2 separate regions of the Homo sapiens genome follow, and region 1 is linked to region 2. A link means that fine-mapping ties the variant in region 2 to the expression of a gene that starts in the linked region. Tissue or cell type: whole blood. Region 2 holds a variant in brackets; the other region holds the start of a gene. All regions are shown on one strand. Distances are from middle to middle.

What was found.
Region 1: it holds the start of RINT1, and the variant in region 2 is fine-mapped to the expression of RINT1 in whole blood (TOPMed, PIP 0.94).

What each region holds. Positions count from the first base shown.
Region 1 is chr7:105,527,361-105,536,615 of GRCh38, forward strand. It overlaps RINT1 (RAD50 interactor 1), which reads left to right and starts at 4,841. Exons shown (of 15, transcript NM_021930.6): 1 at 4,841-4,997; 2 at 5,464-5,509; 3 at 9,205-9,255. The coding sequence starts at 4,956. It also overlaps the pseudogene LOC100131785. RefSeq lists enhancers at 4,122-4,171, 4,459-5,036, 4,622-4,921, 5,012-5,191, 5,037-5,613.
Region 2 is chr7:105,576,263-105,585,517 of GRCh38, forward strand. EFCAB10 (EF-hand calcium binding domain 10) reads right to left here and starts at 5,231. Exons shown (of 5, transcript NM_001355526.2): 1 at 5,096-5,231. The coding sequence starts at 5,201. It also overlaps the pseudogene YBX1P2. RefSeq lists enhancers at 4,623-5,135, 5,136-5,646. The variant CTTTAT/C (reference allele first, on the strand shown) is at 3,728.

The DNA of each region.
Region 1 (9,255 bases), 49 kb before region 2:
CCAAGCCCAAACCCCTCAATGATTGTGTAAATCTCCCCTTTCCAGAGGTTTAGATGAGGTGTTCTATTTTCATCTTTCTGAAGCAGTCTCTTCTGGAACCTCCTGGCCTACGCCAATCTACGCCTATTGCACAGTTGTTCTCAGGGCATCTCTGTTCCTGTATTGAATCTTTCTGTTTCCTATATCCTATGTCATCTTTATTCTTGGTTTACTCTCTTATTTTAGTGGAGTACAACCTTCAGTAGCTTCCCGAGAAAGGAGAAATAAATGAAAGCTTGCTGGGCGCGGTGGCTCACACCCGTGATTCCACTTTGGGAGGCCAAGGCAGGCGAATCACCTGAGGTCAGGAGTTCGAGACCAGCCTGAGCATGGCAAAACCCTGTCTCTACTAAAAATACAAAAACTAGCTTGGCATGGTGGTGGGCGCCTGTAATCCCAACTACTCGGGAGGCTGAGGCGGGAGAATTGCTTGAACCTGGGAGGCAGAGGTTGCAGTGAGCCAAGATCGTGCCATTGCACTCCAGTCTGGGTGACAGAGTGAGACTCTGTCTCAAATAAATAAATAAATAAATAAATAAATAAATAAATAAATAAAACAAAAGCTAAATTTTTTGAGATCTTTAATGTCTATTTTTATTCTTGACTACAAGAGTGTTAAAAAAAACCCCACATTTTTATTCTAACCTCACATTTGATTCATAGTTCACTAATTAAGTACAGAATTCCAGTTTTTGGCCAGGCGTGGTGGCTCACAACTGTAATCCAGCAATTTGGGAGGCTGAGGCGGGCAGATCACTTGAGGTCAGGAGTTTGAGACTAGACTGGCCAACATGGTGAAACCCCATCTCTACTAAAAATACAAAAATTAGCCAGGTGTGGTGGTGCACACCTGTAGTCCCAGCTACTTGGGAGGCTGAGACAGGAGAATCACTTGAACCTGGGAGGCAGAGGTTGCAGTGAGCTAAGATCTTGCCAATAAACTCCGGCCTGGGTGACAGAGTGAGACCCCGTCTCAAAATAAAAACAAACAAACAAAGTGTGGGAAGATAAATGTTGATAAATGTTCTAGGAAAAAAAAGCAAAAAACAAAACAAAACAAAGAAAAGGCCAGGCACAGTGGCTCATGCCTATAATCCCAGCACTTTGGGAGGCTGAGGTGGGCAGATCACCTGAGGTCAGGAGTTCAAGACCAGCCTGGCCAATGTGATGAAACCCCATCTCTACTAAAAATACAAAAATTAGGCGGGCATGATGGCGGGCACCTGTAATCCTGGCTACTAGGGAGGCTGAGGCAGAAGAATCACTTGAACCCCAGAGGCGGAGGTTGCAGTGAGCCAAGATCGTGCCACTGCACTCCAGCCTGGGCAACAGAACGAAACTCTGTCTCAAAGAAACAAACAAACAAATAATAAATAATAAAAGGGGCACTCACTTGTGAAAATGGGGAGGATAAAAATAAATAAATAAAATAAAAAGAGCATTCAGAGAACAAAAAATATGACAGCAGAAATTAAAAGCCTCCTGGGTTCAAGCAATTCTTGTTCCTCAGCCTACTAAGCAGCAGGGACTATAGGTGCACGTGCCACAATGGCCAGCTAATATTTTGTATTTTTAGTAGAGACCAGGTTTCACCATGTTGGCCAGGCTGGTCTCGAACTCCTGGCCTCAAGCGATCCACGTGCCTTGGCCTCCCAAAGTGTTGGGATTACAGGCGTGAGCCACTGCACTTGGCCTATCTTTCCACTCTTGAAATTTTAATTTCTGCTGTCATATTTTTTCATCTCTGAATGCTTTTCTTATTTTATTTATTTTTACCCTCCCCATTTACAAGTGAGTGCTCCTTTTATTATTCATTTATTTATCTATTTAATTATTTATGTTTGAGACAGAGTTTTGCTTTGTTGCCCAGCTGGAGTGCAGTGGTGTAATCTCGGCTCGCTGCAACCTCTGCCTGCTGGGTTCAAGAGATTCTCCTGCCTCAGCCTCCTGGGTAGCTGGGATTACAGGCTCCCACCACCAGGCCTGGCTAATTTTTGTACTTTTAGTAGAGACAGGCTTTCACCATGTTGGCCAGGCTGGTCTTGAACTCCTGACCTCAGGCAATTTGTTCTGCCTCAGCCTCCCAAAGTGCTGAGATTACAGGCAGGAGCCACCGTGCCCAGCCAATGCTCCTTTTAAATAGTATCCTTTTCTCTCATATGTGGGAGCTTAACATTAAACAAATTGAATTCAAGGAGATAGAGAGTAGAATGATTGTTACCAAAGGCTGAAAGGGTAGCAGGGAGGAAGGCATAAATTGGGGATGGTTAATGGGTCCAAAAATACAGTTAGGGGCCAGGTGCAGTGGCTCATGGCTGTAATCCTAGCACTTTGGGAGGTCAAGACAGGAGAATCGCTTGAGCTCAGGAGTAGAGCCCAGCCTGGGCAACATAGCGAGTCACTGTCTCAACAAAAAAAAGTTAGCCAGGAATGGTGGTGCCAGTCTATAGTCCTAGCTACTCAGGAGGCTGAGGTGGGTGGATCCCTTGAGCCCAGGAGTTTGAGGTTACAGTGGGTTATGGCTGCACCACTGCACTCCTGCCTGGGCAACAGAGGGAGAACTTGTCTCAAAAAACAAACAAAAAAACCAAAACCAAAACAAATGACGACAACAACAACAATAAAACAGAGTGACTACAGTTAATAATTTATTGCATATTTTAAAATAACTAAAAGAGTGGAATTGGACTGTTCCTAACACAAAGAAATGATAAATTCTCAAGATGATCAATACCCCAGTTACTCGGATTTGATAGTTACACATTGTATACCTGTATCAAAACATCACATGTCAGACGGCTGGGCAGCCATGGCGTCCTATATCGATGAACACGACTGTGAGCCGTTGGACCCTCAAGCAGGAGACTCGAACCAACATGGTGCTGGAGCTCGTAAGGTCACTTTTGAATAGGATGGACTTTGAAGACTTGGGGTTGGTAGTAGATTGGGACCACCACCTGCCTCCACCGGCTGCCAAGATTGTGGTTGAGAACCTCTCCAGGACAGTCATCAGAGGCTCTCAAGGCTGAGCTCAAGTGCCCCGTGTATCTTTTGGAATCTGAGGAGGAGACTGCCATTGAGATGCTTCCCAACACCTTTTTCATTCCAGTTGCATTCTGCCCTGGCTAAGCAAGACAAATTCCTGTCCCTTGTGCCGCCATGAGCTGCCCACTGATGACTACACTTATGAGGAACACAGACGAGATAAGGCTCGAAAACAGCAGCAGCAGCAGAACCGACTGGAGAACCTCCATGGAGCCATGTACACGTGAGGAGGCTGGGGCTGAGCGCCGGTCCTCTGTGTCTTCCCTACAAACCTTGAATCCTCATTAAAATTTCTTTACCCGTCCCCCGCCCCGCCCCAGAAAAAAAGGCCGGGCGCAGTGGCTCACACCTGTAATCCCAGCACTTTGGTACGCCAAGGCGGGCAGTTCACCCGAGGCCGGGAGTTCGAGACCAGCCTGACTAACATGGAGAAACATCGTCTCTACTAAAAATACAAAATTAGACGGGCGTGGTGGTGCATGCCTGTAATCCCAGCTACTTGGGAGGCTGAGGCAGGCGAATCGCTTGAACCTGGGAGGCGGAGGTTGCTGCGAGCAGAGATAACGCCATTGCACCCCAGCCTGAGCAAAAAAAAAACAAACACACATGTACACTATAAATATATACGATTATGTTCCCATAATAGGTAATTTAAAAAATAGTATCCTTGTTTTTTTTTTTTTTTTTAAATGAGACGGAGTCTTGCTCTGTCGTCCAGGCTAGAGTGCAGTGGTGCGGTCTCTGCTCACTGCACGCTCCACCTCCCGGGTTCACGCCATTCTCCTGCCTCAGCCTCCTGAGTAGCTGGGACTACAGGCGCCCACCACCACGCCTGGCTAATTTTTTGTATTTTTAGTAGAGACGGGGTTTCACCATGTTAGCCAGGATGGTCTCGATCTCCTGACCTCGTAATCTGCCTGCCTCGGCCTCCCAAAGTGCTGGGATTACAGGCGTGAGCCACAGCGCCCAGCCATCCTTGTTTTATGCTTGCAATAGTAATTTGTAGCTCGATTATATATCTCTGTGCACATGTATTTGATTTTTCTTCTCACCGTGTGGTTTCTTTTTCCTCTGAGGGTTGCTTTCCCCCCCCCTTGTTTGTTATGGTCTCTATGGTACTCCTTCCGTGTTAGTTTGTTTAAGAGGCTGTCAAGTCCACAGGTCCTCTACACAACCCTTGCTGCTAGGTAGCTCCCTTTCCTCCTCCCTGGTAAAAGACAGGGTTTTGGGCGAAACACATGTTAGATGCTCTGTTCTCTTCATTCAGCTCCCAGAACGCTTATAACCACCTCTACACCCTCTAGGCAGGAAATCAGAAGCTCATCTCTAGGGACTCTGACCAACGTTAAAAGAAATATCTAAAGATACTGACATTCATTGGAAACCCCCAACTAAATATTCGAACCAAATAACCCTGCACCGAAGCTCCTAGTCAACAAGCCCCCCACACTCTCAGAACATCTGGATATTGCCTAAAATATAAATTTAAATTATTCATATTGAATTTAAGGCGTTGGGAGAGGGATATCTTAAAGTTCCATCATTAAGAGCTTCAATAAAGTGGAGGGGACTTTTACCGCGGTGGAGTGAGCGAATCCCTTCTCTGGAGCTCCATAGGGGAGGGTGCCCGCTTCCTGAGTGGCCGTTCCGACCTCCGGTCAGGAGGGGGAGGAACAGAGCACGGCCGGCGGCTGCACGGGCAGGGCCTCTCTGGGCTGAGAGGAAGAAACCAGTGAGACATCGAGAGGAAGTCGCTGTGGCACTCAGTCCTACGGCCTCCGAGGCTGGGTAGTGAGTGTGTCGCTGGCCTTAGCCAGACTCCACAGGCCACGCTGGCTGCGAATGGAGCCGAGGACTCGCGCGGAGGCGAGATGCTACCAGCCGGCGAGATCGGCGCCTCTCCTGCAGCCCCGGTGAGACGGCCCTGGCGTCCCTGGGAGGGGACATTGGTGGCCCATTGAGGTGGCACAGACCTCCCGGGGGAGATAGTCCCGGTGCGGTGGCCCTGTAAGCTTGTGAAGGTGCTTCCTGCGGCTTAGATTAGAGGCCCTTGTAAGACCTCCTAGAGGAGGCGGTAGTCCCCGTGAAGTGGCTTTGGCGGCCCTGGTGAGATGACAGATTTCTCTAGGGAGGTGGCTCTAGTGAGCAGGCAAGGTAACTCCAGGTCCTGCGGAGGTGACACACACCTCCTGGGAAGGTGGCGGTGGCACCAGGACAGTGGCACTTTGAGGTACCTGATTCGGACGGCCCTGGTCGCTCAGAAAGTGGGAGAGCGTCTGGAACCTCTCTTGCCTCCAGTGGGTGCCCTTTGGGAGCCCCGTATGCTTTCCATCCACGACTTTAATCTTAATGTGCTTGTCACATCTGTTCTTCTTCTAGTGCTGCTCTGAAAGTGGTGACGAAAGGAAGAACCTCGAGGAGAAAAGTAAGCCAGCTCCAAACACCTTAGCTTTTTCTTCCCGCCCAAACTCAGCCTTCCAGGGTCTGCAATATAGAAAGGTTCTTTGCCTATCTTTTAGATGCAGTACCGTTTTCTGCACAATATGCTTATATGGTAATACTGATGACCATGATACACATATTTTTGTCTTTCTAAAATTGTAAAATATGGGATGCTTTGGAGAAGAGCACTTCCCGATCCATACCTAGTACAGGGACTAGAGTGTTTTCGCTGGAAGTCTGCCTATCATACAGTACTCAGAATAATTGGGGCCTGCCTGTCATTTTAATGAAACATCAACTTACTAAGCATCAGGAATTTGGAGGGGCCCATGATCTAGGACAGACGACCACCACCCTAATTGGGTTCAAAGGAGGCAAATGACAGTTGTTTAGTTCACCTTCAGTAAATTGGCAATTTAAAATTGCTCTGGCAAGAGCACAACGGATAACTTGGGTTCTGGATCTTGGACTGGACAGGAAAGGGGGAAAAGGTCAGTACCACCATTTCCTCCCTAGTACGGGAGTATATGTCAGGGTTGTGGACTTTTGCCATTTTACTTTGATGGCAGGTTATTGCAAATCAAGGGCTCTTTAGGGACCTTTGAAGTGACATTTTTTGGGAGAGGAAGGGGAAAAGCATGTGATAGCTCTGCTATTGGGATTTTTGGTTCTTTTGACTGTGGCAAACAGTTGGGAATGTGTAGCAGTAAGAAAAACGGTGCCCACATTAGCACATGGCCCTTAGGAGTAAGATTTGCCCTTAACATTAGCGGCTGATAGAATCTGCCTCAGAAAGAAGGCTCTGAGCAGTCCATAGCACATGACTGTCATAACTGCCACATCTCAGCTCCTTTTTCTTGAAGGATTTCAGAGTGCCTTGTATCTCTCAGTTAAACCCTTCCCTTTCCATTTTCCACCTTTGCCTCATTCAGATGCCTGGAAAGTAGTCTGATGCCTACTGAGCTGTCATTTTAATAAAATAATAGATGTAGACTATCATATCAAGGACTTTGACCTTGTTCCTCTTTCCACAGCTCAAACTGCTTTGCAGTTAGGAGTGCTCTTTACAAAAAATAGAAAAGGAGACACATAAAAACCTCCCAAACCACCGGTGTGTCATTTTGAAGAATGTCATTTCACTAAGAATGTACTATGCCACATTTGAATGGTTACACATCAAGGGTGTAATTTTTTTTTTTTTTGAGACTTAGTCTCACTCTGTCTCTCAGGCTGGAGTGCAGTGGCGCGATCTCGCCTTACTGCAAGCTCCGCCTCTGAGTTCAAGTAATTCCCCTGCCTCGGCCTCCTCAGTAGCTGGGATTACTGGTGCCCGCCAAACACCCGGCTAATTTTTGTATTTTTAGTAGAGGCAGGGTTTCACCATTTTGGTTAGGCTGGTCTTGAACTCCTGACCTCAGGCAATCCACCGTCCTCGGCCTTCCAAAGTGCTGGGATTATAGGCATGAGCCACTGTGCTCAGTGGGTGTAATTTTTTTTAAAAAATGAAGGTAGAATTTCCTCCCTAAGATACAGCAACTTTAGCATTCACAAAACATTTCCTGCCTCCATTTATCTGCAGATACACCACACAAATCACTTGTTTTATTTAAGATTTAAAAAAGGCATTGTGAGTTCTGTACATAATAGTAGATTATTATACGTTAATATTATATATAATTATATAGTATAATTAATATATAATTTGTATTATATAGTCCCATTTATAACCTTGAGATATAGGCTGGGGCAAATGTTACAATTTGTTTTCTAGTTGGAAAATTGAGGCATAGTGTTATGTTAATATTGCCTCTCCTACCCTCTAAATTGTCAATTTAAAATTGCTCTGGGAAGGCACAATGTATAGCTTGGGTTCTGGATCTTGCACTGAACAGGAAAGGGGGAAAAGGTCAGTACCACCTCCTGATTCTCACAGCATGTGAAAAATCTTTTAATTTAATTCATATAAGTTAAGTAGAACAAAGGAAATTTTGTTTGTTGGGGTGTAGGGGTGGAGACAGGAACATACTCTGTATAAAACATTGGTATATATTCTGTTAATCTTTACATAAATAGTTGACCAATATCTGACATTTACATTTTGCACTTAGGCATATCATTATTTAGATATTAATATTAATAAGCCTAATGTGTATTGGACTTATTAAATGTCACAAAACAGGTAGTTTATTTGCCATGGAAAGAATCTCACTTTATACTATTTAGTGGTTGCATTTGTCATTTTGATTTTTTCCTAGTAATTTGTTCTCTCATATTTTCTTTTTTCTGTTTCTGACAAAGATATCTTTGTACAATGACATCGATGACATTTGAAGCTTAAAAACCTTTTTTTTTTTTTTTTTTGAGGCAGAGTCTCACTCTGTTGCCCAGGCTGGAGTGCAGTGGCGTGATCTCGGCTCACTGCAACCTCCGCCTCCCGGGTTCAAGCGATTCTTCTGCCTCAGCCTCCCGAGTAGCTGGGACTATAAGCGTGCACCGCCATGCCCAGCTAATTTTTGTATTTTTAGTAGAGACAGGTTTTCACCATATTGGCCAGGCTGGTCTCGAACTCCTGACCTTGTGATCTGCCTGCCTCAACCTCCCAAAGTGCTGAGATTACAGGCCTGAGCCACCTCGCCCAGCCAAACCTTTTTTACTTTTTTGTTTGTTTGTTTGTTTGTTTTTAAGAGATGAGGTCTTGCTCTGCTGTCCAGGCTGGAATGTAGTAGTGAGATCATGGCTCACTGCAGCCTCCATCTCCCAGGCTGCTCAAGCAATCCTCCCACCTCAGCCCACCTGAGACTACAGGTGTGTTCCACCATTCCTGGCTAATTTTGTTAGATGAAGTCTTGCTTTGTTGCCTAGGCTGGTCTAGAACTTCTGGGCTCAAGTGATCCTCCTGCCTTGGCCTCCCACAGTGCTGGGATTACAGGTGTGAGCCCCTGCGCCCGGTCTTTTTAAAAACACTTTAAAACAAGAGTCTTCTTTTGGTGTTGCCCTAGACCATACTACTGGTTCCTTACACATTTTGAAAAGGTATTATTCCTTGTCTATTGAAACCTGTGGTTACTGGATCACACTTTAGGAATTTTTCCTTTAATACTTCCCTCAGCTCTTAAGCATTTTGCAGTAGTTGTTTGATAGAGTGCTTTAGAGCTATTCTTCTGGGCATTTGTCTGTGTGTGTTGTTCTTTAAATTATTAACTTTGTTTTGTTTTGGTTTTGTTTTTTGATACAGAGTCTCTGTCGCCCAGGCTGGAGTGCAGTGGCGCTTTGTTTTGGTTTTGTTTTTTGATACAGAGTCTGTCTGTGTCGCCCAGGCTGGAGTGCAGTGGTGTGATCTTGGCTCACTGCAACCTCTGCCTCTTGGGTTCAAGGGATTCTCGTGCCTCAGCCTCCCGAATAGCTGGGACTACAGGCCTGTGCCCCCACGCCTGGCTAATTTTTGTATTTTTAGTAGAGACGGGATTTCGCCGTGTTTGCCAGGCTAGTCTTAAACTCCTGGCCTCAGGTGATGCACCTGCCTCAGCCTCCCAAAGTGCTGGGATCACAGGTGTGAGCCACCGTGCCTGGCAAAATTATTAACTTTTGAAGGCAGATAAACTGCTTTTATATGTTTTATATTTTCTTTAACTCCATAGTACTTAGTGGCGTTGAGTAATTGTTATTCTTTTGTTGTAGGTGACATAAATGTTACAGTTCTTATTGGAAGTAAACAAGTCAGTGAAGGTA
Region 2 (9,255 bases):
CTCCTCTGCCATTAGGAGGACTTAGGCAGAAAACTTCAACAGCACTGCATACATACTCTGCATGCCAGCCCACCCCTTCTTTAGCTTCATTACCTTCTTATTCTGGCTCAGTGTTTCTGTACCTATGGTTTCCTCTCCCCAGCTTTGGTGTTTATAAAGATATTTTAAGGAATTCTCATCATCATTATTATTATTATTAAGACAGATTCTCACTCTGTTGCCCAGGCTGGAGTGCAGTGGCACAATCTCAGCTCACTGCAAGCTCCGCCTCCCAGGCTCACACCATTCTTCTGCCTCAGCCTCCTGAATAGCTGGGACTACAGGTGCCTCCCACCATGCTTGGCTCATTTTTTTTGTATTTTTAGTAGAGATGGAGTTTCACTGTGTTAGCCAGGATGGCCTCGATATCCTGACCTCGTGATCCGCCTGCCTTGGCCTCCCAAAGTGCTGGGATTACAGGTGTGAGCCACCGCGCCTAGCCGGAATTCTCATTATTGAAGATGGTACCCAGCCAGGTGCAGTGACTTACACCTGTAATCCAAGCACTTTGGGAGGTCAAGGTGAGAGGATCACTTGAGGTCAGGAGTTCGAGACCAGTCTGGACAACATGGCAAAACCCCGTCTCTACTAAAAATACAAAAATTAGCTGGGCATGGTGGTTTGCACCTGTAATCCCAGCTACTCTGGAGACTGAGGCATGAGAATCACTTGAACCCCAGAGGCGGAGGTTGCAGTGAGCCAAGATGTGCCACTGTACCCCAGGCTGGGCGACAGGGCAAAACTCCGTCTTAAAAAAAAAAAAAAGTGGTACCCATGTCTCAGTTTTAAAAAAACAGCTACACTATTTATGTGATAGGTATATAATTAATGTATGAGTATTCCCAGACTTCCCTTCCACCAAAGAGAATTTTGTCTTTATCTGCTTAGGTTCTTTTCCCCCCATAATGCCTTCTACTGGAAAATTCTGGTTTTGCCAGATGGGTGCAAGGCTTTTTGTGCTGGAGGAAAAAAAGAATCTTCAAGATGCTAAATTGTTTGACATAATAAAGAGCTGAGAAAAACATGCAAGATAGGGAGGAGACAGAAGAGTTGGATGGGCTGAGTGTCATGAATTTGGAACCTGATAGGATCTGCAGCTGCTGTGGAGAATACAGCTGGGAACAAGGAGGAAGGACTTTTGAGTGGTTTTACTGTGGATTATGAATTGAAGTCTTTTTGATTCCTTTCAAATTACTCTTGATTGCTGGAATGACTGTGCTGCTTTGAGTGTGATTCTGTGTTGCAACCGAGATGGCCAAATGGAGGCCTCTGTGTGTATTATAACTGTTTGAGATGCTCAGAGACTATCCTGAAGTTCACTCAGATCAGGTAAGTGGGCTCATGTTGTGACTCAGAAAAATTAAGTTTTCATTCAGTTGACCCATTGGCTGCCATGGTGCTTTTGTCTGTTCAATTTTTTTTTTTTTTTTTCCTTGAGGCAGAGTCTTGTTCTGTCACCCAGGCTGGAAGTGCAGTGGTGCAATCTCAGCTCACTGCAACCTCTGCCTCCGCGTTCAAGCGATTCTCCTGTCTCAGCCTCCCGAATAACTGATTACAAGCATGTGCCACTACACCTGATTTTGTATTTTTAGTAGAGACAGCATTTCACTGTGCCACCATATCTGGATAATTTTGTATTTTTAGTAGAGATAGTTTTTCACCACGTTGGCCAGGCTGGTCTCGAACTCCTGACCTCAAGTGATCTACCCACCTTGGCCTCCCAAAGTGCTGGGATTATAGGCGTGAGCCACCATCCCAAGCCTGTCTTTTTAAATTTTGTTGTTCATATCATGTTTAAGATACCCGTATTCAGGATAATCAAAGGTTCCAGTTGGCCTGGGACAGTCCTAGTTTACCATGTTGTCCTGGCATAATTATTAATAGTACCTATTTTCACTCAAAATATCCCCGGTTTGGATGATAACTCATACAGTCATCTTACCCATAAAGAACGACTAATGAAGACAGGAAATGTAAGTATAAGTCAGTGAGGAGCATCAAAATAACAATTTGGTAAATTCTCAAGAGAATCTGCAGATTCATAAATTGCATTCTTCTGATAAAAATTATACAACATATCAAGATGTAAAGTAAATTAGAAAATCAAGCCAAGATGTCCAATATCCAATAATAATTCCAGAAAGATATAGGTAAGGAAAATAAGAAAAATACTTCCTAGACCTGAAAGAAAAATATCTCCAAATTTAATAAGACCATAAAGTACCTAGAGCACAAACATTAACAGCAACCACAACAAAACCATTCCAAGGCATATATTTAGGACACCAGGGATAAGATAAAAAGACAATCCTAAAAAGTTTCTGGAAAGAATAAACTTGCCTCATAGCCAGATCAAGTATCTGATGACATATGACATCAGAATTCTTCAGAGCAACATGAGAAATTAGAAGACAATGGGGCAATGCCTTAAAAATTCTGAGGGCAATATGTTCCAAGTTAAAATTGTGTCCACTCTTATTTTATTTTATGAGACAGAGTCTCACTCTGTTGCTCAGGCTGGAGTGCAACAGTGAAATCTCAGCTCACTGTAACCTCTACTTCCCAGGTTCAAGTGATTCTCCTGCCAGAGTCTCCCTAGTAGCTGGGACTAGAGGCACATGCCACCATGCCTGGCTAATTTTTGTATTTTTAGTAGAGATGGGGTTTCACCATGTTGGCCAGGCTGGTCTCTAGCTCTTGACCTCAAGTGATCCACCCGCCTTGGCCTCTCAAAGTGTTGGGAGGTGTGAGCCTCCGTGCACAGCCTCCACTCTATTAAAAAGTTTTGAATGTAGGAACTCACATTTTTATATACGTGTGTTCCCAAAATCTTTACCCCTCAAAGCACGCTCTCTCAGGAAGCCACTAAAGGATATGCTCCACCAGAAGAAAGCGGTAAAGCAAGAATGAGGGATTACTGGCTGTGCCATAAAACAGGCTCTGAACACTAGAAAGGCGAGGAGTCGTCTTAGGATCAGAGTGAGGGGAAGCCGTGAATAACCACTGTGTAGCTATCAGTCCAGACTGGAGCAGGAAGACACACAGCTGGGGGTACGGGGTTTGGGTGGTGGTGGTGGGGGTAATTACCCAATGAATGCAAATGTAATGAGAGGACAGCTGTACTGTGGCAAAAGAGGGTATGGATGAATTAGTGATGATCACACAAATTTAAGCCAAAAATGTAAATATATTATTAACCAGGGAAAACAACAAGGGAAATATAATCAGCATACTATAAGGATTATAGATACTTGCCTAACAATATTAAAAATTCTGAATACTGAGGATATCAAAATTGTGATCTAAATTTATCTGGAAGATGGGTGTGAGTGGGAACAGGTGTATGAGGTGTGTGTTTAAGAAAGGCGCATTTTCATCTTCCACAGCATAAAGCTAGTATCTAACCTAGAGGGAAAAACATTAAGCAGCAGCAATATAGGCCTGTTATTTAGAAATCTCAAGATAAATAGCAAAGAATATTGCTAAAAGAGTTGAAATTATTCTGTGCAGAAGCTGGGGATAGCAACAGGAATGCTGTTATTATAAGCTTTGGAGTACTTTTCAATTTTTAAACCCCATACATCCACTTCAATAAAAATGAAATTTAAAAATAAATGTTGACAAATATTTTATATAACGAATGTAACATAATATATCCCTTGTTATGATGAAGAAAATTAACATTTGT[CTTTAT/C]TTTTAGTTTTTTTTTTGAGAAGGTGTTTTACTCTGTCACCTGGCTTGAGTAGCAATCTCCGCTCAATGCAACCTCCGCCTCCCAGGTTCACGTGATCCTCCCACATCAGCCTCTTGAGTAGCTGGGATTATAGGCACGCACCACCACGTGCAGCTAAGTTTTTTTATTTTTAATAGAGATGGGGTTTTGCCATGTTGCCCAGGCTGGTCTATGAACTCCTGAAGTCAAGTGATCTGCCCACCACAGCCTCCCAGAGCGTTGGTATTATAGGCGTGAGTCACCGCCCCCAAGGAGCTTCACGAATAGCTGGGATTACAGGCATGCGCTACCACACCCGGCTAATTTTTTGTATTTGTAGCAGACACGAGGTTTCACCATGTTGGCCAGGCTGGTCTCAAACTCCTGAACTCAAGTGATCCACCCGCTTCGGCCTCCCAAAGTACTGGGATTACAGGCCTGAGCCACTGCTCCTGGCCTATTTTTTATTTTTATTTTTATTTTTGAGATAGGATCTCGCTTTGTCGCCCAGGCTGCAGTGGCGCCATCTCGTGCCCGGCCTTTTTTTTTCTTTCTAATATTTGTTTTAATACTTTAAAACAACTAGCAAGAACTCTGTCTCCTATACATGATATTGGTTGGGTGTTTTTTGGCAAAATTGGAATGTTTGGTATTTCCACTTCCTTACACAGAAGCAAATGGACAATTTTGGCATTTCGGACGCTCCATATGGAGGTCGGCAAATTACAATTCTGCACCCTGGGGAGGACATAAAACCATTTTCACCTAAATATAACTTTTAAATGACACACCACTCCCAAATTACAAAACGATTCAAATTTTGTAGGGGGTTCAGATGTGTAAAAAAAGTCAGGAAAAGCGATCCCCTCTAGAACATCTTCTATCCTACCCTATCAATTGTTTAGTTGCCAGATTAAAAACTTTGGCCGTGCGCGGTGGCTCACGCCTACAATCCCAGCACTTTGAGGCGCCGAGGCGTGCAGATCACCTGAGGTCAGGAGTTCGAGACCAGCCTGACCAACATGACGAAACCCTGTCGCTACTAAAAATACAAAAATTAGCCATGCATGGTGGCGGGCGCCTGTAATCTCAGCCACTCAGGAGGCTGAGGCAGGAGAATCGCCCCTGAGAATCGCCACCAGGAGGTGGAGGTTGTAGTGAAATGAGATCACGCCATTGTACTGCAGCCTGAGGGACTTTTATTGAAGGCCGCAGAGTTAATCAACAGCAGAAGGGCTCACGTGGCTGGGAGGCAGTGGAAAGCGAATGTGTAAGAGGGGGGTTTCGTGTGGGAAGCGAACCCCACATGGAGGTATGGCTGTACCGGGGCATGGGGGCCCTTACCCGGCCGAAAGAAAAGGAGGGCGCTGGTGAGGTAGCTAACCACCTCCTTGATCTGATGCTTTTCCAAATACTCCGCGGCTTGGAGCTCCCTGCTGCTGGTCTCCATCGCTCCGCGTCCCGCTGTTGCTAGGCGACTGCCTGGCGTCTCAGCCGTGCGACTCTGTCTCCCTCTACCCGGCGCGGTCACGTGACACGCCTGACTGCCCTGTGGCTGCGACCCGGACCTGGAATTTCTAGAGCTCACGGTTCAGGGCAAGCCTGGGGCATGTAGCAGGGCAGAGAGGGCAGGTGAGGTGTGGACCAACGTCACTGTCCGCGATCCAGGCTTAGGGCTGGGCCCAGGTGCCTTTTTCCATCTCTCTCTAGCACCTAGCTCGGTACTTGTTGATCCAATGATTAACAAGGCTTGAAGTGCTGGCATCACAACTCAGCATGAACTAATAACAGAAGGAACTTGTGCAATTTTGAGGGTGCCCAGTGGAGAGTTCTTTTTATTATTATTATTTAAGACCTTTATTAACAGGTGCTTGCAGTTTGTTGACTTTTTTGAAAAAATCAAGTTGTAAACTTTTATTACAAATTAAAAATAAAGTGCTTAAAAATCTCATCTTGACCAGATATGAAACAATTTAAAAACCTTTAAAGGCGTATTGAGAAAAACAAGGCTTTTTAAAAAAAACACGTTTGTTATTACCAAAAAGAGACATATTTAGGTAAAAATAATAAAAACCCCATGCTGCATAGATAATGCAGATAGTTCTATTTATCTGGTCAACGGGCAAAAAGCAAGCACTTAAGGTCTTCAGCTCCAATCTTTTGTTCATTTCTTATTGCTGGAATTTCATATTTCTTCTTGTTGGATGACTAAACCGGATGATGGTAGAGATGGTAAGCCGGCATTTACTCAGCCCCGCCCTGCTCAGCCTCGGGAGCAGACGAATTCTCAGCTGGTGGATTGGCTGATTTTGTCTCTTTGCCATCTTGTGATTTAGGGTTTTCTGGGCATCTGCGTTGGTAATTGAAGTTGCTGCGGTACCGACGTTGAGGTGGCTGCTGACCCTGGGTCTCATCTCCTTGATTTTATCTTCTTCATTGCCGTACTCTCTAGGCTGTCTTTGGCAAGGAGGGCCCCTGCGGAATCGTGGTCTATATCCCCGATACATATTCTGCCTCACTGGTCTACCTTGTTCTCCTGCACCCTGGTTGTCAGCACCCTCCATCACTTCTCCCTGCACAGGAGGGCTGGAATACTGTGGTCGACACCCATAGGGTCTCCGCATGTAGTAAGGTGGGAACCTTTGCCTGCGGTAGGGCCGGCATTGTTGGGCCTGGCCTTCGGGAGCATTCTCCGATCCCTCGGTCTTTTCCCCACTCTCACTGTTCTGGTAATTTTGCTGGTAATTGCGTGGAGGACCCCTATGACGTGGATAGCGTCTATAATGGTTACGATCTGCTGCATATTTACCGCCTTGAACTCGAACACCACCAGGATCTGTAACATTTGCTGCCTCCGCACCCTCTTCTCCTTCAACAACATCAAACTCCACAGTCTCTTCATCTCCTACACTGCGAAGGTACTTCCTGGGGTTATTCTTTATGGCAGTCTGGTGTACAAATACATCTTCCTTGGTGTCATTCCTGTTGATGAAACCATATCCGTTCCTTACATTGAACCATTTTACTGTTCCCAAAACCTTCACTGCGATGACCTTCTTGTCCACGCTGGCAGGCGCCGCCGATGTGAGGCCGCCCGGACCACCGCTCCCTGCGCAGCTGCCCGTAGTGCCGGGCTTGGTGTCGGCGGCGCTGAGGGCGGGGGCGGCGGGGGGACGGGAGGGGGGCGGTGGGGGGAAAGGCGGGGGCGGCGGGTGGCTGCTGGGTCTCGGCCTTGCTGCTCATTGGTTGCGGTGATGGAGACTGGGGCCGGCTGCGGCAGCTGCGGCTCCTCCCGTGGTATGACGGTAACTAGGCCGGCAGCGGCGGGGCTGCTCAGGGTTCTCTGGGGTCCGCTCTCCGGGGTCCGCTCTCCGCTCCCGCTACCGATCGAACTCCCCAGTGGAGAGTTCTAAGTGGCATCTCTGGTGTGAGCGGCCTGCAGGCATGGCGCTGGCCACCAGTCAGGAAGGTCTTGGCCTGTTGGCTCGACTGGGTTGTGGGCCACAGAGCAGCCTGGATCCTGAGCTTCAACCCCTGTTTGCTGGAGCTGGTTTTATGAGATGGAGACCACCTGACATATTTATTTATTTATTTAGAGACGGATTTTCGCTCTTGTCGCCCAGGCTGGAGTACAATGGCGTGACCTTGGCTCACTGCAACCTCCACCTCCCAGGTTCAAGAGATTCTCCTGCCTCAGCCTCCCAAGTAGCTGGGATTACAGGCAGGCACCACTACACCCTAATTTTTTTTGTATTTTTTAGTAGAGATGGGGTTTCACCATCTTGGCCAGGCTGGTCTGGAACTCCTGTCTGTTGCAGGAAGTCAGGCACCCCAAACGGAGGGACCGGCTGAAGCCATGGCAGAATATAAATTGTGAAGATTTCATGGACATTTATCACTTCCCCAGTCAATACTCTTGTGATTTCCTATGCCTGTGTTTACTTTAATCTCTTAATCCCATTGTCTTTGTAAACTGAGGATGTATGTCGCCTCAGGATCCTGCGACGATTGTGTTAACTGCACAAATTGTTCGTAAGCATGTGTGTTTAAACAATATGAAATCTGGGCACCCTGAAAAAAGAACAGGATAACAGCAATGTTCAGGGAACAAGGGAGATAACCATTAGGTCTGGCTGCCTGAGAGCCAGGCAGAACAGAGCCATATTTCTCTTCTTTCAAAAGCAAATAGAAATATCACTGAATTCCTTTTCTCAGTAAGGAACAGACCTGAGAAAGAGAATGCCTTTCCAGGGGTTGGTCTCTAAAATGGCCTGTCTTTCTAAAATGGAATGTCTTTTACAGTTGCAGATAAGGGATGAAATAAGCCCCAGTCTCCTGTAGCACTCCGAGGCCTATTAGGATGAGGAAATTCCCACCTAGTAAATTTTTAGTCAGACGGCTTGTCTGCTCTCAAACCCTATCTCCTGATAAGATGTTATCAATGACAATGCGTGACTGAAACTTCATTAGCAATTTTAATTTCGCCTGGGTCCTATGATCTCGCCCTGCTTCCATTTGCCTTGTAATATTTTATTTCCTTGTAAAGCATGTGATCTCTGTGACCCACACCGTATTCGTACACTCCCTCCCCTTTGAAAATCACTAATAAAAACTTGCTGGTTTTGCGGCTTGGGGGGTATCACGGAACCTGCCGACATGTGATGTCTCCCCCGGATACCCAGCTTTAAAATTTCTCTCTCCTGTACTCTTTATTTCTCGGACTGTCTGACACTTAGGGAAATAGAAAAGAACCTACATGAAATAACATTGAATTATTGGGGGCGGGTTCCCCTGATACCTGTCCTCAGGTGATCCTCCCACCTCGGCCTCCCAAAGTGCTGGGATTACAGGCGTGAGCCACCGTGCCTGGCCCTGACAGTTGTTTTGACGGAGGGTCACTGAGTAAGGTGGGATGCAAGTAGCTAGGAGGGCCTCTACTCAGTCATGGGAAGACCTGAGAAACTAAAACTCTGGGCTGGGCCATCTGTCCTTGAGGGCCTGTGCCCACATGCTTCACCCAAGAGTTAGCGCAGAAGCCCCACTTCAAGAAGGGGAATGACAAGTGGTCAGTGAACATGTGAAAATATTCTAAGCCTCTTTGACAATCCAGTAAACAAAACTATAAGAAAATACCATTTCACATCTACCAGACTGATAAAGATTATGAAGTTGAACAATATTAAGTGCTGGCAAAGATGTCACACAATTAATGAGATGGTCAGTGATCATGGGAGCATAAATTGGAACATCCACTTTGGAAAACGGTTTAGAATTATCTTGGTAATTTAAACATGTTTCTACACTCTGACCCAGAAATTCCACTCCAAGAGCAGCTCTTGTCAGTGTATACCAGGAGACATGTACAAGAATGTTTATAGCAGCACCATTCATAATAGAAATCACTGACAACGGCCCAAATACCAAGAGTAAAATGGATTTTAAAAACTATAGTATATTACACATGAATACTATGAACCATTTCAACAATCAGTTGTAGCTACTTG